Linked DNA regions of Homo sapiens: region 1 is linked to region 2. Evidence: fine-mapped expression QTL. A gene starts in region 2. The other region holds a variant in brackets. All regions are shown on one strand. Distances are between the middles of the regions. Region 1 holds the start of NCKIPSD (NCK interacting protein with SH3 domain). Region 2 holds the start of IP6K2 (inositol hexakisphosphate kinase 2).

Region 1 (15,365 bases), 36 kb before region 2:
GACAAGGTCTGGCTTTGTTGCCCAGGCTGGAGTGCAATGACACAATCATGGCTCAATGCAGCCTTGACCTCCTGGGCTCAAGTAATCTTCCCACTTCAGCCTCCAAAGTAGTTGGAATTACAGGTGCATACCACCATGCCCAGCTAATTTTATTTTCTACTGTGGTCCATCAGGTTATACAGAGGTCTCACTATGTTGCCCAGGCTGATCTTGAACTCATGGACTCAAGTGATCCTCCCACTTCGGCCTCCCAAAGTGCTGGGATTATAGGCGTGAGCCACTGCACCTGGCCAACATCCCCCATCTGTCACCCAAGCTGGAGTGCAGTGGTGTGATCTTGGCTCACAGCAACCTCCACCTCCCGGGTTCAAGCAATTCTCCTGCCTCAGCCTCCCAAGTAGGTGGGATTACAGGCTCCCACCACCATACCCAGCTAATTTTTGTATTTTTCGTATTTTGTATTTTTAGTAGAGACCACTTTGACCAGGCTGGTCTCGAATTCCTGACCTCAAGTGATCCACCCACCTCAGCCTCCCAAAGTGCTGGGATTACAAGCATGAGCCACCGCGCCTGGCCAACATCCCCCATCTTCAAAACACTCTCCCTGGCCAGGCACGGTGGCTCACACCTGTAATCCCAACACTTTGGGAGGCTGAGGCAGGTGGATTGCATGAGGTCAGGAGTTCAAGACCAGCCTGGCCAACATGGCGAAACCCTGTCTCTGCTAAAATATAAAAATTAGCTGGGTGTGGTAGTGGGTGACTGTAATCCCAGCAACTTGGGAGGCTGAGGCAGGAGAATCACTTGAAACCAGGAGGCGGAGGTTACAGTGAGCCACGATCGTGCCACTACACTCCAGCCTTGGCAACAGTGGGAGACAAACAAACAAACAAACAACAACAACAAAAAACCCCCAAAAAAACACTCTCCCTATCCCCATGTCATCTCTCTCCAGCAACCTCCCTTCCATTTTTCTCTTCCCCTTAATAGAAAATTCACAAGAGTTGTCTCCATTTACTGCTTCCAACCCTCCCCTCATTTCTACTCCCCAATAACTTCAAGCTCTCTCAAACTTTCATTCAGACTCTCCTCCTTGCACCCCACTGACACTGCTTGTCAGGCACCACTGACCTCTGTGTGGTGAATCCAATGGCCAACCCCAGTCTCGCTCAGGCTCCTAACGGTATAGAGATGGCTGATCGTCTTCCTCTAAACATGTGGCTTTGGGCTCCTGCTTTCTTGGTTCTCTTCCTGGGTTTCTCCCTAGTTGTTTCAGCTGTGCCCAGGGCTGCAGCCCGAACTTCCCGCTGACCTGCCTATCTATCTCATTTCTGAGGCAATCACATTGTCACAGGCTTCCCATCGTATCTCTGCATAGACCACTCCGAAATGTCTCTCTAGTCTCAACTCATTCCCCACTGCCTCCCTGATGCCCTCGGTACCTGGGTGTCTAGCAGATATCTCCTCATTCTTGACACATTCAAAACACGACTCTCTATTTTCCCCCAAGAAGTTCTCCCAGCCTCCCCAACTTCAAAAATCAGCACTTCATCCATCTAGCTGCTCAAGATAAATCAAGTGGCAAGCCCTGCCAGATCCACTTACTAAACACTCCACAGCTGGCCTCTTCTCGCCACTGCCACTGCCACGACCTATCCCATCCCCACCCCATCCATGCCACCTGGACCACTGAGGCTGCTTCCTCCCTGGCTGGCTTCCACTCTGCTGGCATGCAGTTGATTCCATGTGGGATGTTAATCACATCACATTCCCCGGTCCTGAGATCACAACCTCTTGCAGCAGCCTCCGAGGCTTTGTGTAAACTCCATCCTCCATGCCTCATCTCCCTCCACTCCCTCCTCTCCAGCCTCCTCCAGCCCCACCACCTCCAGATCACCTCATGGCTGGCTCCTTTGGGTCTTGGTGCACCTATCATGGCCTCCTACACTTACCTGGCTCCAGCAGTGGCCTTGCCCCCTCATCTCCACTCAATGTCATGCCCCCCACCATTTTGTTTCAGTTTCCACACAGTGACCCCCGCTGCTGCAGCCACCTCCAGGCACCTTGTCTCCTGGTGACAGGTCTGCGATGTGCCGCACAGTGATGTCAATGAGAGCCATCATGTCTGTGTGGTAGAAGATGGCAGCTGTGGCCGGGCTGCCAAACACGTCCTGCAGGAACTTGAGGACAGAGTGTGGTGGCTGTGGCTCATGTTTGAAGATGCGCACAGGGTCATCTAGGAGGCAGGGGTCATAGCGGTCAGGGTGGACCTTGTGGGGATCCCAGAGTCACCCCAGGGGGTTACGGGAGTCATTGCAGGGGTCATGGAGTCACAGGGCATGGAAGTGGTACCCGCGCAGATTCCCGGGCCCTCACCCCCTCTGTTCAGGAGCAACAACAGCTTCTCGGAGAAGATCTTGACATTGGCGTGTTTGCTCAGGGCAGCCATGATGACATTCTGGTCAGCAGCTAAGGAAGGACATGGGTATAGACAGGGTGCTGAGCCTGAGAGCCACCATGTGCTCAGCCACCGCCCAGCCAGGCCCCACCCCACCTGGCAGGTGCAGGTTGAGAGCCAGAAGCAGGTTCACGCAGAGGTCCGGCAGCTGCTCTGTGGTGTCCAAGGGCAGCCCATCCTCGACGATGTTCAGTAGGAACTGGGCGAAAGGCGTGCCCAGGTGCTCTGGGAGAGGGGCGCACAGAAGTCTGCAGCCCCATTCCCCTCCGACCCCCGCACCACCCACCCTTCCTGGCTTTCTGTGAGCCTTGGGGATAGCCTCTCCCTGCTAGGCTGTGTAGTCAGCAGGTCCCAGGCCCTCGGGCAATGGGCCCTGGCTTAGGACCTGTGATCAGCTGGTCGGTTACTGCATTCTTACCATAGTGTGCATAGGGCACTGCCTCTCCCATGGAGAAGACCATGGCCAGGATGAGGGCAGAGTAACAGAGTTTCTGGTGGTCTGGGGGGGACAAGGCAGGCAGTCAGAGTCCCCAAAGATGGCAGGAAACCCCAGCAGATGGCAGGAACACCCTCCAGATAGCAGGAAGTTCCCTCCTACCCCGCCCTCCAGCCTCACCCTGCGTGTCTGTCTGCATGTCCCTCGCCAGCTCTACAGGCAGCACGGATGACACAAGCGTGGAGATGATGGCTGCATCCAGGCTGCACATGGCGCCAAAGCACTTGAGGAGCAGCAGCCGCAGTGATGCTCGGTGTTCCTGGCAGGGAACCCTGCGTGCTCAGTGCCTGGAACTCCCCCACTATCTAGGTCTCTCCATTACCCCTCCCCTCCATCCTGCACATACCATTTGGTAATAGGCCACCAAGGCCAGGACAGACTCGAACTCGTTTCTCTTGCACATTTTCTTGCAAACTTCAGGGTCTGCATCAGTCTACAGAAATGAGGAAGTGAGAGCATCAGCCACCATGAGCGGAGCTGTGCAGCCGCACAAGAGAGGGCTGAGCACATATGTGTAGGGGAGACTCCTAGCACTGTGAGGGATGCTACAGGGTGGGGGCCACTGTTCCCCATGTGGGGTATGTGTGTGGGACCCCACCCTTACCAGAATATGCAGCAGCTCCTCTAGGTAGCAGCGGATGACACCCTCATCCTCATATAGTGCCCAACTGCGCTGCTGGGCGTCGTCCTTCCGGCGAGCCAGGTCTGCAAAGATCACCTCCAGCCTCTGCTGGTCGTGGCAGACCTGCCCTGAGGGCAGGGCCATGCTGAGGTCCTAGAGGGAGAGGGCAAGGCATGACTCAGCACACTCCCTGCCCTCACCATCTCCAGGGAGCCTCCAAGGCCTGGAGAGTCCATCTGTGGACTTTTACTCCATGAACTCAAGTCCCTCCTGGCCCACACTGGACAGGAGGCTCAACTCCAGTCTTGATGACCTCCCAGGACAGGAGTCAACGGGAGACTCATCTGTAGGGGGTTTTCAACAGCTCGCCTCTCATCCCAGACCTGGATAAACACCCCCAACTAGGAGGGCCATGAACTCTGTCACTGCCAGAATGTGACTCTGAGACCTCACTCTCCCATTCCACACAAAATGGCACAGGCCTGTCATCTACCAACTTGCCACATTTTCCTTGAACCCTGCTGACCAGGCACTAGCTGTTGTGCCCAGCACAGCCAAGCCCATTGGCCCACTCCCCAACACCCAAACCAGAAGTGTAACAGGAACCATGGAGCACTAAAGAGGGACCTTTGGTCTGTCTGACCCCCATCATGTATGCTGGGCTCACTGCCCCCATCCTGCTCATGAGTGCCAAGGATCCCACCCATCCCATGATGCCCACACACCTCACTCCCTCTCATCCATGTCAGCACCTAGGACTCCATCCCAGCTCTCCCAGCACCCATGTCTCTTACTGCCAAGGTCAGCAAGGCACTACCCTCACCCACGCCGTGTCCATTCCTTCCCTGCAGCCAGACAGAACTCTTGGCCACCCGCATGTCGTCTTATCTGTCACCTGCCCCAGGTCTCACCTCCTCCTACAGCACCCACTCCCTCACTCCCTGTGTTCCAGTCCTGCAGGCCTTGTTCCACTTCCTCCCACAAGCCAGGCTCAGTCCTGCCTTGTGGCCCTTGTCCAGGCTGCGCATCTGCCTGGAATGCTTGTCCTTCCTTTCTGCTTCAGAAATCAGCTCAACGTCCCCAGTGCCCAGCACAGTAAGAGCTCAGAGCCAGAGCTTGAGAAATACCTGTAATGTACAGGCTGGACAAGTGTGTGACGGTGGGAACAGGGTGGGTAGCAGGGTGGCCCTGCTGTGCCGCCCACCCTCACCTTGCCCTCTACGAGTGAGAGGAGGACCTGCTCCATGACTGGTGAGCTGGCCGGCACCGAGGCCTGGATGTGACCCACTATGATGCCGATGGCCACCCGGCATAATTCGTGGCTCAGGCCAGTGTTTCTCCGCACCAGCTCCATCAGCTCGGCCCCAATGGTCCTGGGCACAGCCGCCTCAGCTGCTGCCTTCTCCTCTGTGGTCCCCAGGCTCAGTGTACCCAGGGCTTCCAGGTCATCAGAGGCTGAGGTTGTACCAGTTGCCACTTCTTCTTCTGCAGGGGGTTCAGGTGCTGATGCCTTGGAGGGAGGGGGCTGGACTTGGGACACGGTGGTGTGGGTGCCTCGGCGGGGCACAGGTGGGGGTGTGGGTGAGCAGCTGGAGCCTGGTTCAGATGGGCTGGAGCTGGTATAGAGCGTGTCCAGGGAGGTGCTGCTGACTGAGGAGCCGCTGGACACAGAGTTACCCCCGGAGGGCATGGTGTTGTGGCCACCTGCGAGCAGTGAGTAGAAGCTGGGCCAGGGCAGCCCCCTGGAAAACCATACCCTTCACAGCCCAGATCCCCTGTCCCCTAACACAGGGCCTAGTTTCTCTGCTAGGCACTGCCTCCTCACAAAGCCCAGAGCCCCTAATTGCCCCAAAATGGGAGTCCTGTCCTCTTCCCCAGCTTAGAGCCTCCATTTCCCTGACACAGGCAGCACAACCATTCCAAGCATAGGGTGCCTCCACCTGAATTCCCCTAACCCTGCCTTCTTACCACTCCCAGAGGCCATCAGGGCCTCGCGGTCTCGGCGCTTCACTGGTGGGGGCGGTGTGGTGGGTGCTGCTCGGCGAGGCTGTGGTGGGATCTGGGAAGATGGAAGTGGGATCTGGAAGATGGAAGTAGGATCTTGGAGGACAGACTGACATCTAGAGCGTCAGCGAGGCTCGGGCCCTGAGCCCTGGCTGTGGGCAGGACTATGGCTCTGGGCCGCATCACTCCTGAGTGGACCCCTTGAGCCTCTGGATGAAGCCTCAAGTTCCACCCACCTCCCTTCTCCACGATGTCCTCCCCACACACCTGGTAGAGGCCTCCATCTGCCCCAAGATGCTCAGAACTGGGTAGGCTGTGCTGCCGCTCGAACCCAGCTCGACACACCCCATTGGGCTGCCTGGCTGCAGCAGCATCCAAGTGGTGGTCACTGGTTGATGAGGTCATAACTGCAACACTGGAGGCTGAAGGGCCTCTGCGTGACAGGGTCTCTTTCCGGTGGTGGATCAGCTTCCTGATGGAAGGACAGGAAGACTATTGGGGGGTTGCATCTCACAGCTCAAAGTCCTCATATGCCCCTGTGGGATGCTGGGACCCCATAGCCCAGGCCCCTCAGACATCCCCATCTCCTCCATGCTCCACCCCAGCCTACAGTACCCCATACTATCCTCAGTCCTGCGCTCTGCACACCCCTGGTGCTCACTGAAGGACCCGACCCCACCTTGCTCACTGGGAGGTGCCATTCCCCCACCACCCTTGCCAACCCTCGCATTTCCCAGGCCCACCTGCCCCATGACACTCATTGAAGAACCCCACCCCACCATGCTCACCGGGAGGTCCCACTTCACTCCCCTCAACACTCACTGGAGGACTCCACGCTGTTCCAGGCTGTACTTGCCACCATCCCGCATGGCTGTGTTGTGTACAGCCTCGATGGCCCGGTCAATGGCCTGGAGGACATCCTGCTCCAGGCCCTGGGGGGGGCAGGGGACAGCAGTTAGACCTGAAGGCCAAACGGAGGTGCTCAGCCCAGGCCCAGCCCGAGATAGAACCCAGGGCAGAGAACCAATATAGCGAAAGCCTGGAATGCTAGACATAGCACAAAAAGTTGAACCAGAATATGGAATGGGGTTCTCAAACTGTATCACTCAGGGAGCTGAGGCACAGGGTGACCCCCATGCTGCCACATTACATATTAGGTCCTGATCAGGATTTTACCCCACAGCAAGGCTCTTGGCTAAGATGTTTCTGAAAATCAGAGGTCTAAAGCAAAAACATAGCCCAGGGGCTCCCAGCTTGCAGCCAGGAGCGCATACCTCGTCTATCCCTGGTCTTGGCTCAGAGCCCAGGTTGAGATGCCAAACAGGAAGTCTCCAGTATCTGGAATCCTTAATACATCACTCTGCATCTTGCTGATCTTTCACAAAACCAAGGTCATACCCCAGAACAGCCCTGTCCTTGTAAGGGCCCTCTGTAAGCCCTGGGAGCTGAGAATGGGTCAAAGGGACTTGCCCTCCCCAACCCTGCTGCTGGCCCTCATCCCCACAAGATGTCTCAGTAAGCTTCCAAACCCACCCTGGGAAGCAGTTCTGTGTTTGTGGCAAAGGATAAACATGAGAGAGGGGCCTAGCCCCTGTTCCAGGCTCTGTACTGCCATCCCCAACATTCCAGGGATCCAGTCTACTCTGCCTATCTGACATGGGGAGTGTAGGGTAGCAGCTATCAAACCAGCTACCCCCAGCCCTCCCCTGGCCCTGGCACACGTAGTCCATCAGGCTACATAGGAGTCCCGGAGCTGAGATGAACTCATTCCACCATGGGTTTGAGAAGCTTCCCTGATGGGCACAGACAGGTGGGCACAGAGGTCAGCAAAGCCCTCCAGGTGGTATGAGGTGTGCCAGAGTGCAGGGAGAGGAGACAGGGGGATAGAAAGACATGAAGACACACACACACACACACACACACACACACACACACACACAGAGAGAGAGAGAAAGAAAGGAATGGGGAAAGAGAGGAGCTCAGAGAGGAACGGAGAGGCAGACAGAGGGAAACAACGCAGAAAGAAACAGAGCCAAAGCCAGAGTGTGGGGGGAGCCGGAGGAAGAAACAAAAACACACACATGTGGAGTCGGAACGACACAGGCAGAGAGGCACAGAGTCGCAGCAATCCAGACAGAAAGAGACACGCAGAAAGAAACAGACAGTGACAGAGAAGATGGTAGCCTCTCTGCCCTCCCCAAACACCTTGCCCCACTGGTCCTGGCTGGCGGCAGGGGACTCACAGGCCCTTGACCTATGCCCAGTAGGGGAAGAGACAGGACTTTTCCTCAGAGGCCTTCAATGAGACCCCATTCCCAAAAAGGTTGGGTCTGACACACAGCAGCCATGGTGTCCACGGCCCCCACTCCCACCCCTGGCACTCCTAGATGGGATCACGCCAAGGGTCTATGAGGAAGCCCCTAGGCCCCCAGGGCCCATCCTTCCTGGTAAGACCAGATGACACTTCCAAATTTATCCCGTTATTTCTGTCCTGAACTGGGCTGGGACAGGATGTTTCCTAAAGGATAAGGACTAGGACGGGGCGGGGGTGTCTGGCACAGGCCCGGCAGCTCTGGGCCCTTCTTCCCCCTGTGGTCAGAATAGACCAGCTGGAGATACGCACCCCAACCCCCGCAGCAGGGCTACTCTTAGGGAAACAGGAACTGGGACTGCAGCTTCCACTGGAAGGAAATGGGGCCACGATCAGACCAGGAGAAGCTATAAGAACTCACTTCATCACAATGTGAGCAGTCCCCACTCCAGGCTGGGAACAAGTAGGGATGGAACCCATTTTCAAAGCAAGAAAGTTTGAGAAGTCAGGGTTGGGGAGTGGAGCAGACAGTGTCAGCAGGGGCATGGGTCCTTGGTTCAAATAAGGTTGGTAGAGACTTAAGAAGAGCTTAGAGGGTGGCTGAACACAGGCTAGTGAAAGACACTGAAGTACCAAAGCTTGGGTGTTACATAGGGGATGGAGGTGTCTATGGCTCTAGGGTCCAAGTTGGGGGGTTGAGGACCTGGAGAATGGCTAGGGAAACAGGTGGTGTCCAAGGTGGTCCAGGTCTCAGTGGTGGCTCCAACGGGGGGCAAGGCGCGGGGTTGGGGGAAGAAGGAAGGGAGGGAGGGAGGGAGGGAGGGAGGGAGGGAGGGAGGTTGGTTGTGGGGTCCTAGGAATCCAGAGAAGGGGCATATTAAGGATCTGGGGTCTCAGGGATTTGAATAATTGGCCAGGATTCGGTGGGGCTCAGGGTCGCCATTCAGATGGCGGACTCGATACTGAAGGGTCTGGGGTCCTGAGGAGTCTCAGTCCCAGAGTTAGGCTTTTGGTCGATCGGGAGTTGGTCTGTCAAGGGCCTGGTCTTTTGTGGGTGATGCTGACACTTGGGGTCTCAGTCCCCGTGGGTCCGGGGGTCTCAGGGTCAGGTTCTCAAACTCCCTGTCTGATAGAGGTCCTGGCCTCGGGTCCCGGAGAGGGTGGGGTCCCTGGGTCGGTTCCGCGGGGCTGTGAAGGGGTCCTGCCCCAGGGGCGCGGAGGCCGGGCGGGAAGGGGCGCACTCACCTGCAGGCGGCGCAGGTAGGCTGGCGGCACGTAGCCCGTCTCACCACTGCGCGCCCGCGCGGCCAGCCACCAGTGCGCGCTGCTTCGCTCTAGCACCAGGAAGGTCTCGCCCGCGGCGAACGCCAGCGCGTTGGGCTCCGCCGAGCGGAACGCGTACAGCGCGCGGTACATGAGGCCGGGCAGGGCAGGTGCAGGGAAGGTGGCAAGGGCTGCGGCGCCACAACGCCAGGCCGGGAGCGCCGAGCCGCGCCGCGGTTGTCCCGCCCCGTGACACACTACGCAGGCGCGCGCGCGCCCGCCCGCCGAAGCCCCGCCCCGGGCTGTATCGTTCCACGCATCGGAGAGCAGCGCCCCCGCGCGGCCCCAAGAGGTGCGGCGGGGCTGGGGTCGACAGCTCGCTGTCTCCTCTGGTCCCTCCCGGCTCCAGGCCCCTCATCCCCGGACACCGCACCCTCACTCCTCACCCCGGCCTCAGTTTCACCCGTCCAGCCCTCTGCTCCCTTTCCCCGCTTAAGTCCGAGCGCTGCGTCCCGTCCTACCTCCCGGTGAAAGCGCGCTCCGCTCGTAGCGGGTGCGCCCCTACCGCCCTGGGGCAGTGGGTCCCATCTACTAATTGCAAGGACGGCGACCTCGAAAGGATGATCTTGCTGATCCGACACTTGGAAGCCCCCGCGGGGCCCGGCTCTCGGTGTGTCTAGGCCTCACCACCTGTCTTCACCGAGTGCCGGTGGTGGCCAGTGGGGAGCAAGTGTGGGGAGAAGGGGGCCACAAAAGCAGAAACCAGGCGGGGCTATTCCCTGTCTAAAGCCCTCCCATCTTTGCTCCCCACCCCTACTCCTCCTCTCTCTTCAGCTATGGCTGGTTTTCTCTATATTGGGCCTTTGCATATTCTGTTCCCTCTACCTGGGACAATTTTCCCTTCCCTCTCCTATAGTATTTGTCCGTCAAGCTCCCACCCCCATCAATCGCTATCATCTTGCTGTGTTTTATTGTCTTTATAGGACTTAAGATTTGCGATGCCCCTTTCTGAGAGCATAGAGGAGGGCTGAAAGAGGGAGTGGGGTACCACGGTGGCCTTAAGAGCCTATTTGATCCACCCAGCTTTCCAGTCAGCCCAGATCTCCAGATATATGAAATCCGTGTAATAAGAGTGCCTGGAAGACCCAGGGAAGAGGCCCTCAGGGTCCTGGAGAGACTGTGGCTGAGAATGGTCCAGCTACGCTCCACAGGAAGCCCGAGCCCAGGAAGCAGGAGGCGTGTACAGGCCAGTGTGTGCAAGTTTTCTATTTTTATCTGTATTTATTTTTTGAGACAGGGTCTTGCTCTGTCGTCCAGGCTGGAGTGCAGTGGGATGATCAAGCTCATTGCAGCCTTGATCTTCCAGGCTCAAGCCTACTGTCTCTGGGACTACAGGCATGCACCACCACACTCAGCTTTTTTTTTTTTTTTTTTTTTTTTTTTTTTTAGTAGAGACAAGGTCTTGCTATGTTGCTCTGGCTAGTCTCAAATTCCCGGACTCAAGCAGTCCTCCCAGTGTTGGGATTATGGGTGTCTGTCTGACCCAGTTGCCTATTTTTAGGCCTAAAGTACATAGGCCTAGTGTGAGGTTCAGGTGAGGGGTAGAACTGCTAGAAACTGACATCCAGACCCTGCCTTCTCTGCACCAGGTCTGGCTCTTCAGTTCAAGACCTCTCTTGGCCCTTCCTCCTCCCAGAAGCCCTCCTGGGGCAGGGCAGAATCTCGGGGTCTGTGCTGTCTGGGACTGCCTGAAGAATAAGACTGGTGAAATTGCAATGGGGACTAGGGCTGGGCAGGAGTGGTGACAGGTGGTGTGGCCAAGAGGACCACCCTACCTGCCCAAACACGCCTTTTTATGGTACCCTCCATCACCTGGGCCCCTTTACAACACAGTCCATGGCTGCCAATGGACCAGACCCGAGGCTAGAGACCCTAGTATTGCTTCCAGGACATCTATCACAATAGCCAGCCAATTAGCTGCTGCCAGTGGCATAGGAGGGATTAAAAGCTGGACCCAAGGTTTGGATCACCTGCTATCTAATTGGCTTAAGCTGCATACGGCCCATGAGAAGACCTGTGTCAAGCGTCATGTGGTTTTTGGATAGAGGTGCTGAGACACTTAGCCAGCACAGACGCCAGAAGGTATGTAACTTGGGGATCCTTTCTGGGTAACCTTCAGGATGCTGGGTTGGAGACTGTACACCATGCCAAGAGGTTGTGCTGACTTTAGGATCCATGGAGTGGGGGTGGCAGCCAGGAGAATACTGAGCCAGGGAGGTGGTCACAGCATGTGGTGAGGCTTGGGAGGGGGACTGCCTGCTCTTGGAAAGAATGACAGGAGCACTATATACAATAAACAAAAAGATTTGTATTAGAACATATACACTCAGGGAAGAAAGAGGTATCATCATCAAATGTGGAATGTTGAA[G/T]AAATAGTTAAAATAAATAAAGACTCCAAGCACAGCTGGGACTGGCTCAGGCTGGGGCTCACAGAGGCCACTGCACATCAGCTCCAGGCTGCAGGAGCCACCACCTGGCCATACTGGCTTCCTCCCTGACGCAGCACAGCTGTGCCTGGGACACAGAGTCGCTCTCAAGTACTGGAGCAGCTAGCAAGCTCACTCCCCACTCTCCTCACTTATCTCTGTGACAATGTCTATCAGGCTCTGGAGCCCGAAGATATAGCCAGCATCCTGGCCCTCATGCACCACGGTGTCCTCGCCATACAGCCTGCAGGTGGTGTGTGCAAAGTCGATCATGCGCACATCTACAGAGCTGGCGCCGATGGGTTTGTAGGCATAGGCACCAGCAGACTCATCAGCTGATTCCTCTGACAGGTCCTCCAAATCCTCAGCATCTGAGTCCAGGACCACTTCGGGCCGCTCCTTGCCATCATAAATGACCAGCAGGGAGCTTGAGTAGAAGCGGTAGGACTCCTGTCGCTCCAACACTGCCTTGAGCTCAGTCAGCTTCTTGAGCACAGGGCCCAGGAGTTCACGGCGCAGGTACCGCCCATTGTGGAAGAACTGGAAAAGTGCCTCCTTGAAGCCCTGCACCGATAGCTTCCGTCCATGGTACTTGTTCATGAACATGAGCTGCCCACTGCCTGCTTGGTACACCTGTAGGAGAGAGACCAGCAAGTCAGGGGCTGAGGGCCATCTCAAACCCTGGACCCCGGGCGGGGGTGGGGTGGTGTGGTGGTGGCGGCATGTGACAGCCCAGATCAGATAAAGTACACCAGTTGCACATGAGCCACTGTCCACTATGCTCTCTGATCAGCCCCCACCTGGGATGCAGCCATCCAACCTGGGTTTGGTCATTGTGCCCCAGCACCCCACCTCAACATCTGGGTCACTGGAGAGGACCAAACCCTTTTGCCTTCCTCCCTACTACTATCCACAGATTCTGGACTCAGCCAACCAGACCAATCTGAGAGAGGATCATGCAGGCATGCATGCTTTCTTTTTTAACCAAAAAGCAACAGACTCATGTAGGGTCAAATCTGGAACCTTTTTATTTTGAGACAGTCTCGCCGTCGCCCAGGCTGGAGTGCAATGGCGTGATCTCAGCTCACTGCAACCTCTGCCTCCTGGGTTCAAGCTGTTTTCATGCCTCAGCCTCCCAAGTAGCTGGTATTACAGCCGTGCACCACCACGCCCAGCCAATTTTTGTATTTTTAGCAGAGACAGGGTTTCGCCATGTTGCCTGGGCTGGTCTCTAACTCCTGACCTCAGGTGATCCACCCACCTTGACCCCCAAAGTGCTGGGATTACAGGTGTGAGCCACTGCACCTGGCCTGGAATCTTTTGAGCAAACAGGACTATACCAGGGTGGGGAAGTGACAGCCACTGGATGCCCTAGCCAGCCCTAGCATCCCCCTCACCTGCATGCCACACACACGCACACCAATGACTGCAGATGTGCTCTGCTGACATTTTCGGATCTGGTTGGCTGCCTTCTCCTCTGAAGCATCATCACCATGTTGTCGTGTGCCCATCTTGAGGTCAAGGACACAAGGCACCTCGTAGCGGGAAGTCAGGTTTTCCAGTAAGATAAATTCTGAGTAGTTAAGAATAATACCCCCAAAAGGAAGTGCTACTGCATGGGTCCTTGGCACTCTCAAGGTACAGTGCCTTGATGCAGTGACCCAGAGAAGCCTGAACCCACAGGAGACTCCATTAGTCCTGCCATCCCCGACACAGGGAGTCCAGAGCTGACTATAAAGCTAAGAGACACCTTTACTTCTTGTCAGGGAACTGACGTGGAAGCAGCCTGCACCCGGACTCAACAGAGGCCTAGGCTCTTCCTGCCTGGGAGACACACATGCCATCTTCTGAACTCTTAGCTAAGTGTAGGACTAGGGTCCAAAAACAAAGTCCTCAATTACAAGTAGAACATCAAGAAAGTTCAGTAAATCCTGTAGCCTTAAATGTGAACTGGAAATATCAGTATAAACTCATGAAAATACTTTGCTCTTTAAACGTCTGCTTCTCAGCTGTGTGCACTAAAAAGGTCTAGAAACAATAACCAGAAATAATGAGTGTCTCTGGTGCACAGACCATTGACTCATTATTTCCCATTCAAGGAATCAGTGCTCCCAACAGCAGAAACTGGTAAACTATGGCCCAGTGCTTGCTGTTTATGGCCTATAAGCTAGGAATGGTTTTTACATTTTTAAGAGACCAAAAAATAGATAAAAGGCTAGGCGTGGTGGCTCACGCCTGTTATCCCAACATTTTGGGAGGCTGAGGCAGGAGGATCACTTGAGCCCCGGAGTTTGAGACCAGCCTGGGCAACACAGTGAGACCTTACCTCTACAAAGGGGAGGGGAGGGGAGGGGCAGGGAGGAAGAGGGCTGGGCGTGGTGGTTCATGCCAGTTATCCCAGCACTTTGGGAGGCCAAAGCAGGTGGATCACCTGAGGTCAGGAGTTTGGATCAGCCTGGCCAACATGGTGAAACCCTGTCTCCACTAAAAATACAAAAATGAGCCAGGCGTGGTAGCGGATGCCTGTAATCCCAACTACTTGGGTGGCTGAGGCATGAGAATCGCTTGAACCTGGGAGACGGAGGTTGCAGTGAGCTGAGATCACACCACTGCACTCTAGCCTGGGGGACGAGCAAGACTCTGTCTCAAAAAAAAAAAAAAAAGAAAAAAAAGAGAGAGAGAGGAAAAAAAGAAAAGAGAAAAGAAAACAAATATTTCCTTATGCACAGCTCATGTCCCAGTGGTGGTCTGGTGAACCAGGACTGATCAGGTCAGTCTCCTCACCCAAACACCCCAGCCCTTGGCAGGTGAGCAATGTTTTCAGACTTCTGAAAAGTCTGAAAACAGGGAGCAGCTCCTTGCCCTCTTCCTCTAGGTTACCTAGGCTAAAGCCCACCTGATGCAAGCTGGCCCCTTCATGAGGCACCCCTCACCTCCCAGAAACCCATTATACCCCACTCCTCATCATCTGCACTCCTAGGCCAGTAGCTGCCCTGAGGGAAGTGATTATTTGCCCATAATTATCATACAGGTCCTGGAATAACCCAGGTAGGAGAAACTCAACCATGACTATAAAAACCTAACTTCTCTCTCCAAGCTCCAAGGGACTTCCTCATTTCCTCTCCTCTTACCCTCAAATGCAGAGATGCCCGTGAACAAAGGATACTGTACTGGTTCCGATGCTTTGCATTCTCCTTCATTCTCTGTAACTGTTGCTGGTGACATTTCATGCTCCAAGGGTTATAGTGTTTAAGCTGGGAACTTATATTCCCCTTCTTCTCTACAGTGTAGTACAAGACTTCAGATTTCTTTAGCCACTCAAATTCTTCTTCTAACTTATGGCTATAAAGAGATAAGGACCAATAAATCAGTATGTCTTATCAGAATTCAGAAGGCCGGGCATGGTGGCTCATGCCTGTAATCCCAGCACTTTGGGAGGCCGAGATGGGCAGATCACTTGAGATCAGGAGTTGGAGACCAGCCTGGCCAACAGGGTGAAACCCTGTCTCTACTAAAAATACAAAAATTAGCCAGGCGTGGTGGTGTGCTCGGGAGGCTGAGGCAGGAGAATCACTTGAACCTGGGAGGCAGAGGTTGCAGTGAGCCTAGAAGATCGTGCCACTGCACTCCAGAGCCTGGGCAACAGAACAAGAAAGACTCAAAAAATAAATAAATAAATAAATAAATAAATAAATAAAATCCAGAAACTTTCTTTTTTTTCTTTT
Region 2 (14,908 bases):
GACAACATGGTGAAAACCCATCACTACAAAAATACAATTACCCAGGCGTGGTGGCAGATGCCTGTAGGCCCAGCTACTTAGGAGGCTGAGGCAAGACAATCGCTTAAACCCAGGAGGCAGAGGTTGCAATGAGCCGAGATCGCGCCACTGCACTCCAACCTGGGCAACAGAGTGAGACTCCGTCTCCAAAAACAACAATAATAATAATAAATATATAAATCTAAGACACTAGGGCACATAAAAATCTGAATGGGCAGGTGAGTAGTTATACCAAAAAGCCATATCCAATGTTAGTTTCATACTTGCAAAGCAAAAATAACCTACTATTCTTATAAAACAAATACTGAAGGGGGATGCGAGATTTTTGCAATCCCCATGAAAGCTGAGACAAGCTCACACGGCCCATGGGGCATCTCATTTGAGTGTGCAGCTTCAGTTACGAAGGCCTGTTGGCCCCGAAGCAGCCCCAACTAAAAGAGCAAGACAAGGTTCAAGGCAAGGAGCCATAACAGGTGGGCTCTTCTAACAGGTAGGGTTTTAAGGTAGAGTAATATGGCCTGGGGAACTTGGGCCACAGCACCCCAGGGCCAGAGCAGGCAACGTGGCAGCCTTCCACAAACCCAGACTTAGGAGATCTAGCCCAGGTTCCAACTGGGCACATTCTCACAAACTAAGTGCAAAAGCAACACTAGAGCCAGATGTCTGCTTCTTGGTAACTAACATGTTTTATTCCATTAAAAGAAGTTTTACTCTTCCTTAGGTTTGGGATTAGACACTCAATTTCGAAAACACATAGGAGTGTCTCAAGTAAGATAGGTGGATACATAGAGAAAGCAAACAACATTAATTAGCCGGGCGTGGTGCCACGCGCCTGTAATCCCAGCTACTCGGGAGGCTGAGGTTGCAGTGAGCCGAGATCACACCACTGCACTCCAGCCTGGGTGACAGAGTGACATTTTTTCAAAAAAAAAAAAAAAATAGTAATACAAAAAAGAAAGAAAAAGGCCAGGTGCGGTGCAGTGGCTCACGCCTGTAATCCCAACACTTTGGGAGGCCGAGGTGGGTGGATCACCTAAGGTCAGGAGTTCGAGGCCAGCCTGGCCAACATGGTGAAACCCCGTCTCTACTAAAAATACAAAAATTAGCCAGGTGCGGTGGCACATGCCTGTAGTCCCAGCTACTAGGGAGGCTGAGGCAGGAGAATCGGTTGAACCTGAGAGGCGAAGGTTGTAGTGAGCTGAGATCTGGCCACTGCACTCCAGCCTGGGTGACAGAGCGAGACTCCGTCTCATTAAAAACAAAACAAAACAAAACAAAAAACCCCTGAATCTTAAAGGGAGCATATCCCAGAAATTTGTTTAGTTTTGTTTTTTTGAGACAGAGGATCCTGCCACCACACCCAGCTAATTTTTGTATTTTTAGTAGAGACAGGGTTTCACCATGTTGGCCAGACTGGTCTCAAACTCCTGACCTCAAGTGATCTGCCCACCTCGGCCTCCCGAAGCGTTGGTGTTACTGGCGTGAGCCACCACGCTCGGCCCTTTCTTTTTCCTTTTTTTTGTGTGTGTGTGTGTGTGTTTTTTTGAGATGGAGTCTCACTCTGTCGCCCAGGCGGGAGTGCAGTGGTGTGATTTTGGCTCACTGCAATCTCCACCCCCTGGGTTCAAACGATTCTCTTGCTTCAGCCTCCTGAGTAGCTGGGATTCCAGGCACCTGCCACAGAGGCTGGCTAGTTTTTGTATTTTTAGTAGAGACGGGGTTTCACCAGGTTGGCCAGGCTGGTCTTGAACTCCTGACCTCATGATCCAACCGCCTTGGCCTCCCAAAGTGCTGGGATTACATGCATGAGCCACCAAGCCTGGCCCTGGCCCTTTCTTTCTTTAAAAGGTAGGGCAGGCCAGGCGCGGAGGCTGAGGCAGGCTGAGGCAGGAGAATGGCGTGAACCCGGAAGGCGGAGCTTGCAGTGAGCCGAGATCGCACCACTGCACTTCAGCCTGGGCGACAGAGAGAGACTCCGTCTCAAAAAAAAAAAAAAAAAAAAAGTAGGGCAGTGATGGGGATAGGCACAGTGTAGATGAAACAAGATTGGCCAGGAATTAGTAACTACTGAAGCTGGTTATGGATGACAGACCCAAATCAACTGTGCATCATCTCGGCAAATTGACTTCTCCAAATCCTGAAGTGGGCTCTAAACTCAATTTTTGGAGAGAAGGACATTTCCTTGCCACCAGAATATACTGTAAAACACAACTACTTCTTATTACTTTTATTATATGGTACACAAATAGGCAAAAACATAATTTAAAAAAACAAAAACATGCTTTAAAATGTAATAACATGAGAATAATCATCTGCTTACTTTCTAATGTATAAGAGTGTGTTCAATTTGTTACCCAAGATTATCCCACTAGGTGAAATAACTTCACTTAAAGGGAAAATTCTTCCCCAGTGCATCCTCTTTATGAGCCAAACAATGGAAAATTTTCACCTCAGTAAGCTGGCCTCAGGGAGGTTCAGGCTCATCCCTGTTGCCTAGATACCAGTGACATCTCAGGAGCTTACAGAAGGCTCTGGCATCCCTCTTGGAAGGGAGACTGGCAAAGGTTCATCAGTCAGTGGTTGCTCCTTCTTTCCTGGCACATTCCACTGCTCAGACAGATACAGGGCTAGCATACAGTGTACCTGTCTGTCACCTAGGAAGCTTTGAAACACAAAAGAAATCTATTATATCTGTTACACTGATTTCTAGATCTCCCAGGTCCCTGCCTTGCTCCCTCCCTACCCAGGCCCTGCATAAAAAACAAACCAAACAAACAAAAAGCTAGTTTCTACAATTGTATTAACTCTAGTCAGTGTTCTTATCCATTTCATTTCTTTCTCTCTCTCTCTTTTTTTTTTTTTTTTTGTAGAGACAGGGTGTTGCTATGTTGCCCAGGTTGATCTTGAACTGCTGGGCTCAAGTGATTCTCCATTTGATTTCTAACAATGCCTGTGAATTCTAAAGTCACAAAGCAGGTAAATCTATCGAAATGACAATGTCAGACAAGACCACAGAAAATAGAAAAAAAATTTTAAATGACAGTTAACAGTTTAACTTTTTCTCAAAAAAAAAAAAAGTTACTAGGCCATCAATTTGCCTATTATGTCAAATGTGATAAAGTATTCATTTGGCCCTTTCTAACTCTGATAGTGGCTAAAGTTAAAACAACACCCTGAAGCTTCTCTTTAAATACTTAACACCCAAGTTACACGATGCAATTATACAAACCCCACAGCAACAACCTATATAAATAAGCATCTTAGTTCACTTAAAATATTACCTGGCTACAACTGCAAATACAGCAAACATTTTAAACACTAGAATTCAACAAAATTACTGTAATCATGGTCCTCTATTAAAAATATCATAGAACCGATGATCTACAACATTTTTGTTACCACGTTCCAAAGTGCCAGTACTTTTTCTTAAAACTATTCAAGATGATTTTTTGTTCTGTGTACATTCTGCTACGGAAATGTTTAATTCCAAGCAGTGACTAGTTCTGTTTTCCCTGGTATTTAAGAGCACTGGATTTTACTGGTTTCTACATTTTATTTTCACTCACTTTTCTGCTAGTGTAGCTTAGTTGATATATGAGAACGAATACAATCCTAAAATGAAATAAGCCATTAGGATGCAAAAGACAAAAGCGGTCTGTAATCAAACGTAAAGAGTGGAAATATCACTATAAAGGTGTCCTCTTATCCATTTAAAGGCATTTTTTCTATAATAAGGTTAAGTGTGTAGATTCCCTCATCGAACACCATCTGACGGGCCCAAATGGCATTCAACACTCAAAATGGCTGCACATCTGCCGACCCCAGGTAACAGTACCTGAGGCGCTGAGCTGACTCCCTATCCAAAGATCCGGGAAGACCCCTCCACCCGCCAAATATCTGGGGAGATCGTGGCCGCCAATGACCTGGGGAGACCCCTCAATGACACCGTAGATCTTGCGCTTCCCAAGACCCGGGGAGATCTCAATGACCAGGAAAGATCCTGCCCTCCCCCAAACCCGGGAGACCCCCTCCAATGACCGGGGAGGATGCTGGACCCCCAAAACCACGGAAATCCCTCCCCCAATGATCAGAAGAAAAACCCTCCTCCCAAATGACCCAGGGAAATCGAATCCACAGGGACCCCGGGAGATTTCCCCCACAATGACCACGGAAGAAGTCTTTCCCAAATAACCTGGGAGACTCCAATGATCAGAGATCCCGTTTCCCAGTAGCCTGAAAAAATCTCCCTCAAAGCTCCTCGGGCACTAGGGCCATAGGACGCGAGCTTTACCTGCCGCCTCAGCCGGGTTCCTCGGCGTTTCCGTCCTATTGTTTCTCTCGCACCAAAATGGCTGCGGCCAGGCCGAGCCCCGCCCCCTGCACCTCGCTCCCGGTGCCCCTCACTATTGGCTCGTCCTAGGAGCTGCGCACGCGGACTGGACAGCCTGAAAGGCGCTGTTGCTAGGGTGCCAGGATTCGCTGCAGCAGCTTCCGGAAAAGGCGGTGACTGGGGGCGGGGCCAGAGAGGGCGGAGCATTGTCCTCCGTCTGGGAGGGTGGGCCGGAGGTCTGACGGGCGGTTGGGTGGATAGACTAGCTGCGGGCCGATGGACAGCAGGATACCTGGGAAACAGATGGATTGACCAACAGTCTTGGTTTGTTCAGTAGTGAGCGATTTCGCAGGATGCAGGAATTTCAATGCTAACACAGAGACAGTCCACTACAAACTGGGAAGTTGGTCACTCTAGCAGATGGACAGAAGACTGGATGTGAATAGACGGAAAGAGGGACAAAAGAGTGCCTGTAGACGGTGGACAAAGAAATGGTTATAGATACAGACAGACAGATTATTAGATATGGAAGGGTGGACAGAGAAGTGGCCATAGAGTTTTCTGGGGACTGGTGGATGACCCAGTGCCCAACCCAGCTCCCACCAAGCACCACACCACAGGGCTTGTCTGAGGCTCATTTGTCTTGGGCCTGTGTTGGACAGAAGGGCTCTCACCTGAGTGAATGTCAGCATAGCTGTGAAAGGCAAAGGAGAGGGTTAGTGCCACTGAGAATGGGCAGAGCCTCCTACCTGATCTCTGCTCTTTCTGTAAAGGAGAACAATGTTGCAGCCCTGTGTACTGGGCATTTGCAAAGGTGTAAATTCACTCATACACTTTTTAATTCAACAAGTATTTATTAAGCACTTACACTCGGTATTGGAAATACAGCAGTGAACAAAAAAGGAAAATAAATAAATATCCCTGACCTTATAACAGTGGATAGGAGAGACTTCTGTGAGCAGCTCCTCTCACCTTAGCATGTGGTTTCCAGGGCTCCATGTCCTCCTGGTTTCCTCCAGTCTCACCAGTTTCTCATCTGTGTGTTTTCTCTTTGTCTACACTCACTCTTCCAAAATCTTATCCAGGCTCATGACTTCAAATGCCACCTACATGTCAATCACTCCTAAAAGTGTTTGTCCAGTCCAGACCCTTCCTGAGTGGCAGATTCACTAGTCCCACTGTCAACTAGACATCTGCACTCTGACTTCCAGTTGCTGGCATCTCAAACGCAACTTGTGCTACCCTAACACTGGCTCATCCGCCAAACCTACTTCACCCCACTTTCCCCAAATTGAGTGATAGCATCTCAGCCCTTCTTATTGCTCAAGTCAAACACCTCAAAGTACCCCTTGACTACTCTCTTTCCCATCTATATTCAGTGCACCAGGAAGGTCTGCTGTCTCCATCAGCATCATCTACCCAGAATGAAATCACTTCTTGCCACCTCCATACCTTTCACTGAGTCCAAACTGCCACCATTTCTCTTGAGTGCAATGTCACAGCTGCCTCCTGGTCTCCTCTTGCTGCCCCTGATGCCTTCAGTCTGTTCTGCACACATCAGCCTGTGAATACATGAGTCAGATCCTCCCATTCCCTGCTCAGAACCCTGGAGTACTTCCTCCCCAAGGGAAAACCAGAGACATCAGGACCTTCATAATTCCCTATCACCCCCCCGACTGTATCTCCCCGGCCAGCTTTTGGCCTTGCTGCTCAATCTCCCAGTGTTCCTCACACATCACACCCCATGCACTCTCCTGCACAGTGTATGAGTTATGGTTGTTCCCATGCCTGGATTGCACAGATTTCCAAAGAGCTGCACCCCAGCTCTCAGAGCCCCTCATTTCAGACTGTAACCTGCCCCACTCTGCCCCCAGCACTCAGTACCACCTTTATCCCCTCATCCTGGCTCTATATGTTTCCATAGCAGTTACCACCTTCTCAGAATTTTTTTTTTTTGAGACATAATCTTGCTCTGTCACCCAGGCTGCAGTGCTATGACATTGCAACCTCCGCTTCCAGGGTTGAAGCGATTCTCATGCCTCAGCCTCCCAAGTAGCTGGGATTACAGGCGTGTGCCACCACACCCGGCTAATTTTTCTATTCTTCAATAGAGACGGGGTTTCACCATGTTATCCAGGCCAGGCTGGTCTCAAACTCTTGGCCTCAAGTGATACACACTCCTTGACCTCCCAAAGTGCTGGGATAACAGGCATTAGGCACCGTACCCGGCCGCTTCATAGCAGTTACCACCTTGGGGCCGCCCTAGCATTAATTCACTCTTCCATTCCTTTCACAAGTGCTTATCAAGGTCTGACTTAGATTAGACACCAGGGATGCAGCGTGAATAAACACAGCAAGAATTCAAATGATTTATTTGTCCGGAGGTGGGTGAGAGGCAACAGACAGTAAAAGAACAAATAACATAATTATAGGCAGAGTGACTACAATGGAGAAAAGGAACCAAGCAAAAGTGCAGAGTATGGTGTTTATGTCTAAGGCAGCAGGAGAGGTAGATCTGAGAAGGGAACATCTGAGCTAAGATCAGCCCAAAGGCACTGGCTGAGCATGGAAAGATCTAGAGGAAGCCATTTCTGACAAAAGCACAGCAAGTACAAAGACCCCGAGGAAAGAAGAAGTTTGATATTTTGAGGGAATATGAAAAAGCCACTTGGGTCTAATGGAAGAAATAGCTCAGAACTTAAGGGAAAGATGCACAGAGCTGAAAACGATGAAGGAATAGACCACAGATCTGGGGGGCAAGTCCAAGAATTCTGATGTGCAGACAGCAGGAGTCCTAAAAGGAGAAAAAGGGACAGCTGAAATGGAGGCACCAGCTAGTCAAACTACAGAAGAAAACTTTCATGACATGAAGAAAACTCTGTGTCAGCCGGGTGCAGTGGCTCACACTTGTAATCCCAGCACTTTGGGAGGCTGAGGCAGGCAGATCACTTGAGGTTAGGAGTTTGAAACCAGCCCGGCCACCATGATGAAACCCTGTCTCTACTAAAAAATACAAAAATCAGCCGGGCGTGGTGTAGTCCCAGCTACACCTGTAGTCCCAGGTGTAGCGTGGTGTAGTCTCAGTGCACCTGTAGTCCCAGCTATTCCGGAAGCTGAGACAGGAGAATCACTTGAACCCAGGAGATAGAGGTTGCAGTGAGCCAAGATCACGCTACTGCACTACAGCCTGGGTGACAGAGCAAGACTCCCTCTCAAAAAAAAAAAAGAAAGAGAAAAGAAAAAAGAAAAAGCTGTGTGTAGATGGGAGGGGTTGGCCACATTCCCAAGCAGGATGAAAGAGAAAGACTACAGTAAAATTCTTAAACTCCAAGGAGAAAGAGACCATTATACAAGCTTCTAGATAGATAAAACAAATTACATACCAAGGAAGAAGGGCCAGCTGGCCTCAAACTCTTACCCGTAACACAGGTGCACTATCTGCCCACCTAGACCCAGCTAAAGGACAGTTGTCATGCCTGGAGAGGAACAATAACCATAAATGGAATGAGGAAAAAATAGTAGAATGTCCAAATTACCAAGGGGAAACATTAAATGAATGACAGTTTAATCAAAGACAGCAAAGAGAAAGAGGAAAATATTAGGTTGACCCTGTGAAACTGCTAATATTTAACTGTTTAAACCTACAAAAACAGTAGTTTCATATAGGTCAACTAAATAAAAATATAAAACTACAAAGTAAAAAATAATAAACCTAGGCCAGGTGTGGTTGCACACGCCTGTGAGCCCAACACTTTGGGAGGCCGAGGCGGTCGGATCACGAGGTCAGGAGATCGAGACCATCCTGGCTAACACGGTGAAACCCGGTCTCTACTAAAAAAATACAAAAAAATTAGCTGGGCGTGGTGGCGGGCGCCTGTAGTCCCAGCTATTCAGGAGGCTGAGGCAGGAGAATGGTGTGAACCTGGGAGGCAGAGCTTGCAGTGAGCTGAGATCGTGCCACTGCACTCCAGCCTGGGCAACAGAGCGAGACTCCATCTCAAAATAATAACAATAATAATAATAATAATAATAAACCTAAATTATGGGGCTGGGCACTATGGCTGTCACCTTTAATCCCAGCTACTCTGGAGGCTGAGGCAGGAGGATCACTTGAGCCCAGGACCTGAAGTCCAGCCTGGGCAACATAGCGAGATCCTGTGTCTTTAAAAAAAAAAAAGGAATTTATGGAATGAGCAAAACTAAACATCTTTATCACAGTAAATAAATCCTGAACTCCCTTTAAAGGCATAGAGACTGGATTAGAGAGACAAAACCCAGCCACATGCTATTTATAGGATATTTGAGACCACACAAACAGAAAAGGCTGAAAAATAAAGGAGTGGGCAGAGAGATCAGGCCAGCACAAACTAGAAGAGAACAGGAGTACATGACATGAGAAAAGGTAGGATTTAAGGTGATAGGCATTGAGCAAAATAAACAGGGCCACTGTCTAACATAGAAACAGACAATTTATGAAACAGACATGGCCAGGCACTGTGGCTCACACCTGTAATCCCACCATTTTGAGAGGCCAAGGTGGGCAGATCACTTGAGACCAGGAGTTCAAGACAAGCCTGGCCAACATGGTGAAAGCCCATCTCTACCAAAAATACAAAATTAGCCGAGCGTGGTGGTGCATGCCTATAGTCCTAGCTACTTGGGTGGCTGAGGCACGAGAATTACTTGAACCCAGGAGGTGGAGGTTGCAGTGAGCTGAGATCACACCACTGCACTCCTAGGTGACAAAGCAAGACTCTGTCTCCAAAAAAAAGAAAAGAAAAAAGAAACAGATATAAACTATACATAAACGATATAATAATAAGTTCAGGTACACCAGATATGCAAAACATTTTTTTAAATCAGGAACTAGACAGGGATGATGGCAACACTATTATAACACATTGCCTTAGAATTCTAGCAAATATTTCTAAAGCATTTGGCTTTGGAGGGAAAAAAAGAATCCTAACGAATATAATAAGAAAAGAAAATGGCATGTTATAAATATTGGAGAGAAAGACATTAAACTATCTCTTTAGTTAATGCCGTGGTTACAAATCTAGAAAATCCAAAGGACTTTCTTGAAAATTATTACAATTAATAAGATAAAATGTTAAGGTGATAAATACAAGAAAAATACATTAAAAATAATAGCATTTGCTACAAATTGGCCCCTAGAAATGAATAAAAATGAGAAAAATATTTAATTTCAAATATTTAAGAACAAAAATATAAAATATTGTTTTTGTTTTTGTTTTTGTTTTTGTTTTTGAGACAGAGTCTTCTCTGTCGCCCAGGCTGGAGTGCAGTGGCATGATCTCGGCTCACTGCAACCTCCTCTTCCCAAGTTCAACCGATTCTCCTGCCTCAGCCTCCTGAGTAGCTGGGACTACAGGCGTGCACCACCACTAATTTTTGTATTTTATGTAGAGACAGGGTTTCACCATGTTGGTTAGGCTGGTCTCATACTCCTGACCTCAGGTGATCCACCCACCTCAGCCTCCCAAAGTGGTGGGATTACAGGCGTGAGCCACCGTGCGTGGCCAAATGTTCTTTTACATGTCTTTTGGTGGACACACCATTTGTTTCTGTTGCATATAACTCAGGCTATTTGGATACTTCCACCATCATCCTTGATGTGTTGGATTCTGTCCTCAGGCTTATGGCCCTTGCATTGAAAGATAGCTGCATCCTTTCCAAACATCATATCAGTATTCAAAGTAGGAGGTAGGCTGGCACCAGCCACATCTATCCCCTTTATCAGGTAAGCAAATGCTTTCCCAGAAGCCCCAGCAGACTTCCATTTATTGTTCATTGACCAGTGACTCAGGCTTCTCAGGCTCACAAGGAGGCTGAGAAGTCAGAGAATGGGTCAGGATTTGTCTATTACTTGGGACTGGACACTTACCCTCCTGGACAAAATTGAGGTTTGTTAGCAAAGAAGGAGAAAAGGGTATTAAGAGGCAATGGACAGAACCTCACAACATGAAAAGACGTTGAAACTCATCAGAAGGCAAGGAATGGTCATCAAAGTAAGCAATATAGCAACGACAAAACTATGGAGAGAATAGGACTTCATCAGGGTGAAAGTATTGGAGTGTACCTTGCCACTGAAGATCTTTTATTTACTTCAAGAGAGATTTAAGGGTGGCAGTTTGAGATAAAACCAGGAGATATCAGTTATGATGGTTTGGAGGAAAAGTGTAAACTGGCAGTGTAAACAAGGGCAGGGCATTTATGAGTAGTTGAGAATGGTGAATAGGAGTATGACTACACAGAAGATAGTAGGGATGACAAGTTTTTGGGGCATAGTCCAAGTAGTGGGGGTGACTGCGTATAGCCCTGTTGCAAAAAGTAGGGTAAGGATGAATAGACTTAAAAGAATGAAGGGATGTATTAGGCTCATAAGGGTTATTACTGTTTTTCAGAAATGCGAGTGAGTTTAAGGGAAGTAGGGGAGAGTACTTCCGACTTCCAGGAGGAAGAAGAGAGATCAGGCTGGCTGGCTGACAGACACAGCTTTATTCTGGAATGGTGAACCCAATGGGGAGGGTCCTGCAGGCGGATGGCAGTTGGGGTGCTATAGATGACTAAGTAGGGTCCAGTCCATCGAGGTTGTAGAGTTTGAGGGGTCAGATTTTTAATAAGAACTGATCGTCCAGCTAGGGTGTCTTTATATGTCTGGGAATCTGGAGTAGGCAAGAGAAGATTAGCAGCCTGGCGAATTTCCTGTCTAGCCTGCTTGAGGACTGGAAGATAGTCACCTAGAGGGCTGGTGTCTGGGACGAGGCTGGGGCTGAACAAGAAAGTACGTCCATATAAAAGTTTAAATGGACTGTGCCCTGTAGCATCTCGAGAACAGGCTCTAATTCTGAGAAGGGCAACAGGTAAAAATACTGTCCAGTCCTTTTTAAGTTGAAGGATGAGCTTAGTGAGGTGTGTCTTTAAAATACCATTAGTCTGGCCAGGTGCGGTGGCTCACACCTGTAATCCCAGCACTTTGGGAGGCCGAGGCGGGCGGATCATGAGGTCAGGAGATCAAGACCATCCTGGCTAACATGGTGAAACCCTGTCTCTACTAAAAAAAATACAAAAAATTAGCCAGGTGTGGTGGCGGGCACCTGTAGTCCCAGCTACATGGGAGGCTGAGGCAGGAGAATGGTGTGAACCTGGGAGGCAGAGCTTGCAGTGAGCAGAGACTGGGCCACTGCACTCCAGCCTGGGAGACAGAACAAGACTCTGTCTCAAAAAAAAAAAAAATACCATTAGTCCATTTTACCTTTCCTGAAGATTGAGGACGGTAAGGGGTGTGAAGGTTTTGCTGAATATCAAGAGTCTGAGAAACTGCTTGGGTGATATGACTAATAAAGGCCAGTCTGTTATCGGACTGTATAGAGATGGAAAGGCCAAACTGAGGAATTATGTCTGACAGAAGGGAAGAAATGACCGCGGTGGCCTTTTCAGACCCTGTGGGAAAGGCCTCTACCCATCCAGTGAAAGTGTCTACCCAGACCAAGAGGTATTTTAGTTTTTTGACTCAGGGCATGTGAGTAAGTCAATTTGCCAGTCCTGGGCAGGGGCAAATCCCTGAGCTTGATGTGTAGGGAAGGGAGGGGGCCTGAACAATCCCTGAGGAGTAGTAGAACAGGAGATAGAACACTGAGAAGTGACTTTTTTGAGGATAGATTTCCACAATGGAAACAAAATAAGAGGTTTTAAGAGACGGGCTAGGGCCGGGCGTGGTGGCTCACACCTGTAATCCCAGCACTTTGGGAGGCCGAGGTGGGCAGATCACAAGGTCAGGAGATTGAGACCGTCCTGGCTAACATGGTGAAACCCCATCTCTACTAAAAACACAAAAAAATTAGCTGAGCGTGGTGGTGGGTGCCTGTACTCCCAGCTACTGGGGAGGCAGAGGCGGGAGAATGGCGTGAACCCGGGAGGCGGAGCTTGCAGTGAGCCAAGATCGTGTCACTGCACTCCAGCCTAGCCAACAGAGCGAGACTCTGTCTCAAAAACAAAAACAAAAACAAAAGAGATGGGCTAGCGGCTTGTAACCTACATTAAAGAGGTTATGAAATGATGACAGAATAGAATGGGCCTGTGAGGCTGGAAGGAGATATTCTTCTTGGTCTAAGAACCACTTGCCTTGTGTGGGAAGAGACTGACAGGTGGAAGTTTTAGTGGGAGAGTAGGTGGGAGTGACTGATAAGAGGAAGAAAAACTGGCCACGAAGGACAGAAGTTAGAATGCTAGCTGCTTGTTTAGCTGTCTTATCAGCATAACTGTTGCCTTGAGCGATGGGATCTGATGCCTTTTGATGGCCCTTGCAGTGAATGACTCTTTGGAAGTAAAGCAGCCTTGAGAAGAGTTTTTATTAAAGAGGCGTTAATGATGGAGGACCCTTGCGTAGTGAGGAAACCTCTTTCAGCCCATATAACAGCAATGGTGGTGCAGGATATGGAAGGCATATTTAGAGTCAGTATAAATATTGACGTGTAGTCCTTTTGCAAGAGTGAGGGCCCGAGTTAAGGCAATGAGTTCAGATTGCTGAGAGGTAGTGGAGCTGGGCAGAGTGGTAGCCTCAATGATAGATGTGGAAGATACTATAGCATAGCCTGCCTTTGCTGGTGAGTGGCAATTAGGCCTGGTGGAACTGCCATCAATAAACCGAGTATGATCAGGGTGAGGAACAGGAAAGAAGGAAATATGGGTAAATGGAGTGAATGTCAGGTGGATCAGAGAGATACAGTCATGGGGGTCGGAGTGGTATCCGGAATAATGTGGGAGGCCAGATTGAAGTCCAGACCAGGAACAATGGTAATTGTGGGAGACTCAACAAAGAGTGAGTATAGCTGAAGGAGCCAGGGAGCAGAAAGTATATGCGTCAGGTGTGAGGAAGAAAATAGATTTTGGAAGTTATGAGAACTGTAGAGAGTGAGTTGACCATAGTTTGTGAATTTGAGGGCCTGTAAAACTATTAGGGTGGTGGCAGCCACCGCACAGAGGCATGATGGCCAGCTTAAAATAGTAAGGTCAATTTGTTTGGACAAAAAGCCCACAGGGTGCAGTCCCAGTCCTTGTGTAAGAATTTTGACTGCACAGCCCTGCACTTCAGCTGTGTGTAATGAAAAGGGTTGGGATGGGTCAGGCAGAGCTAGTGTGGGAGCAGTCTCTAGAGCTGTCTTTAAGGAATGGAAACAGGAGTGGGGAAAGGATTTAGGATCTATGGGGTCAGCTAGGTTTTTCTTTGTGAGTTTATATAATGGTTTTGTTAGGATGGCAAAACCACGTATCCAAAGGTGAAAGTATCCAACCATGCCCAGAAAGGAAAAAAGTTGTTGTTTTATAGAAGGGGTTGGGGTTTGGGAGATTAGCCAGACATAATCACCAGACATAAACACCATGTGTGTTTTTATGAAAAATTATGCCAAGATAGGTAATTGGGTGAGGAAGAAATTTGGGCTTGACTGAAGTAATGGGGGCTGTCCCTGAAGCCTTGCGGCAGTATAGCCCAGGTAAGTTGCTGAGGCTGATGGGTGTCAGGGTCAGTCCAGGTAAAAGCAAAGAGGGCCTGGGACGAGGGGTGCAGGGGAATAGTGAAAAAGTGTTTCTAAGATCAAGAACGGAATAGTGCGTTGTGGAGGAAGGTATTGAGGACAAAAGAATGTATGGGTTGGGCACCACAGCGTGGATAGGCAAAACAATTTTGTTGATAAGGTGCAGATCCTGAGCTAACCTGTAAGACTTGTCTGGTTTTTGGACAGGTAAAATGGGGGAATTGTAAGGAGAGTTTATAGGCTTTAGAAGCCCATGCTGTAGCAGGTGAGTGATAACAGGCTTTAACTTTTTTAAAGCCTGCTGTGAGATGGGATATTGGCATTGAGTGGGGTAAGGGTGATTAGGTTTTAATGGGATCATAAGGGGTGCATGATTGGTCACCAAGGTAGGAGTAGAGGTATCTTATACTTGTGGATTAAGGTAAGGAGACACAAGGGGAGGATGTGAAGGAGGCTTTGAATTGGGGAAAAGGGCAGCAATGAGGTGTGGCTCTAGCCCAGGAATAGTCAGGGAAGTAGATAATTTAGTTAGAATGTCTTGACATAATAAGGAAAGTGGGCAGGTGGAAATAAATAAAAAGGAGTGCATAAAAGAATGTTGTCCACGTTGGCACCAGAGTGGGGGAGTTTAAGGGGTTTTGAAGCTTGGCCATCAATACCCACAACAGTTATGGGGGCAAGGGAAACAGGCCCTTGAGAAGAAGGTAACGTGGAGTGGGTAGCCCTTGTATCGATTAAACAGGGGATGGACTTAGCCTTCACTGTGAGAGTTACCCGAAGCTCGGCATCCGTGATGGTCCAGGGGGCTTCTGAAGTGATCAGGCAGCATCAGTTTTCAGCCGCTAAGCCGAGCAGATCTGGGAAGGAGTCAGTCAGAGAGCCTTGGCCCAGAGCTTTAGGGACTCTAGGAGTGGCTGCCAGGCAAGATGGGCAGTCTGATTTCCAGTTGGTCCCTGCACAGATGGGACACGGCTTGGGAGTA

Evidence for each region. PIP is the estimated chance that this variant, and not a neighbour inherited with it, causes the effect.
Region 1: its variant is fine-mapped to the expression of IP6K2 in whole blood (TOPMed, PIP above 0.99).

The regions. Positions count from the first base shown.
Region 1 is chr3:48,676,501-48,691,865 of GRCh38, forward strand. It overlaps NCKIPSD (NCK interacting protein with SH3 domain), which reads right to left and starts at 9,415. Exons shown (of 13, transcript NM_016453.4): 1 at 9,137-9,415; 2 at 6,403-6,512; 3 at 5,848-6,052; 4 at 5,545-5,656; 5 at 4,787-5,280; 6 at 3,559-3,729; 7 at 3,301-3,387; 8 at 3,075-3,213; 9 at 2,877-2,957; 10 at 2,555-2,683; 11 at 2,377-2,469; 12 at 2,064-2,236. The coding sequence starts at 9,307. It overlaps IP6K2 (inositol hexakisphosphate kinase 2), which reads right to left. Exons shown (of 6, transcript NM_016291.4): 4 at 14,807-14,982; 5 at 13,038-13,213; 6 at 11,503-12,273. The coding sequence ends at 11,773. RefSeq lists silencers at 8,923-9,642, 9,036-9,330 and enhancers at 9,527-10,258, 9,853-9,922, 11,305-11,805, 11,806-12,306. The variant G/T (reference allele first, on the strand shown) is at 11,584.
Region 2 is chr3:48,712,827-48,727,734 of GRCh38, forward strand. It overlaps IP6K2 (inositol hexakisphosphate kinase 2), which reads right to left and starts at 4,395. Exons shown (of 6, transcript NM_016291.4): 1 at 4,331-4,395. RefSeq lists an enhancer at 1-373.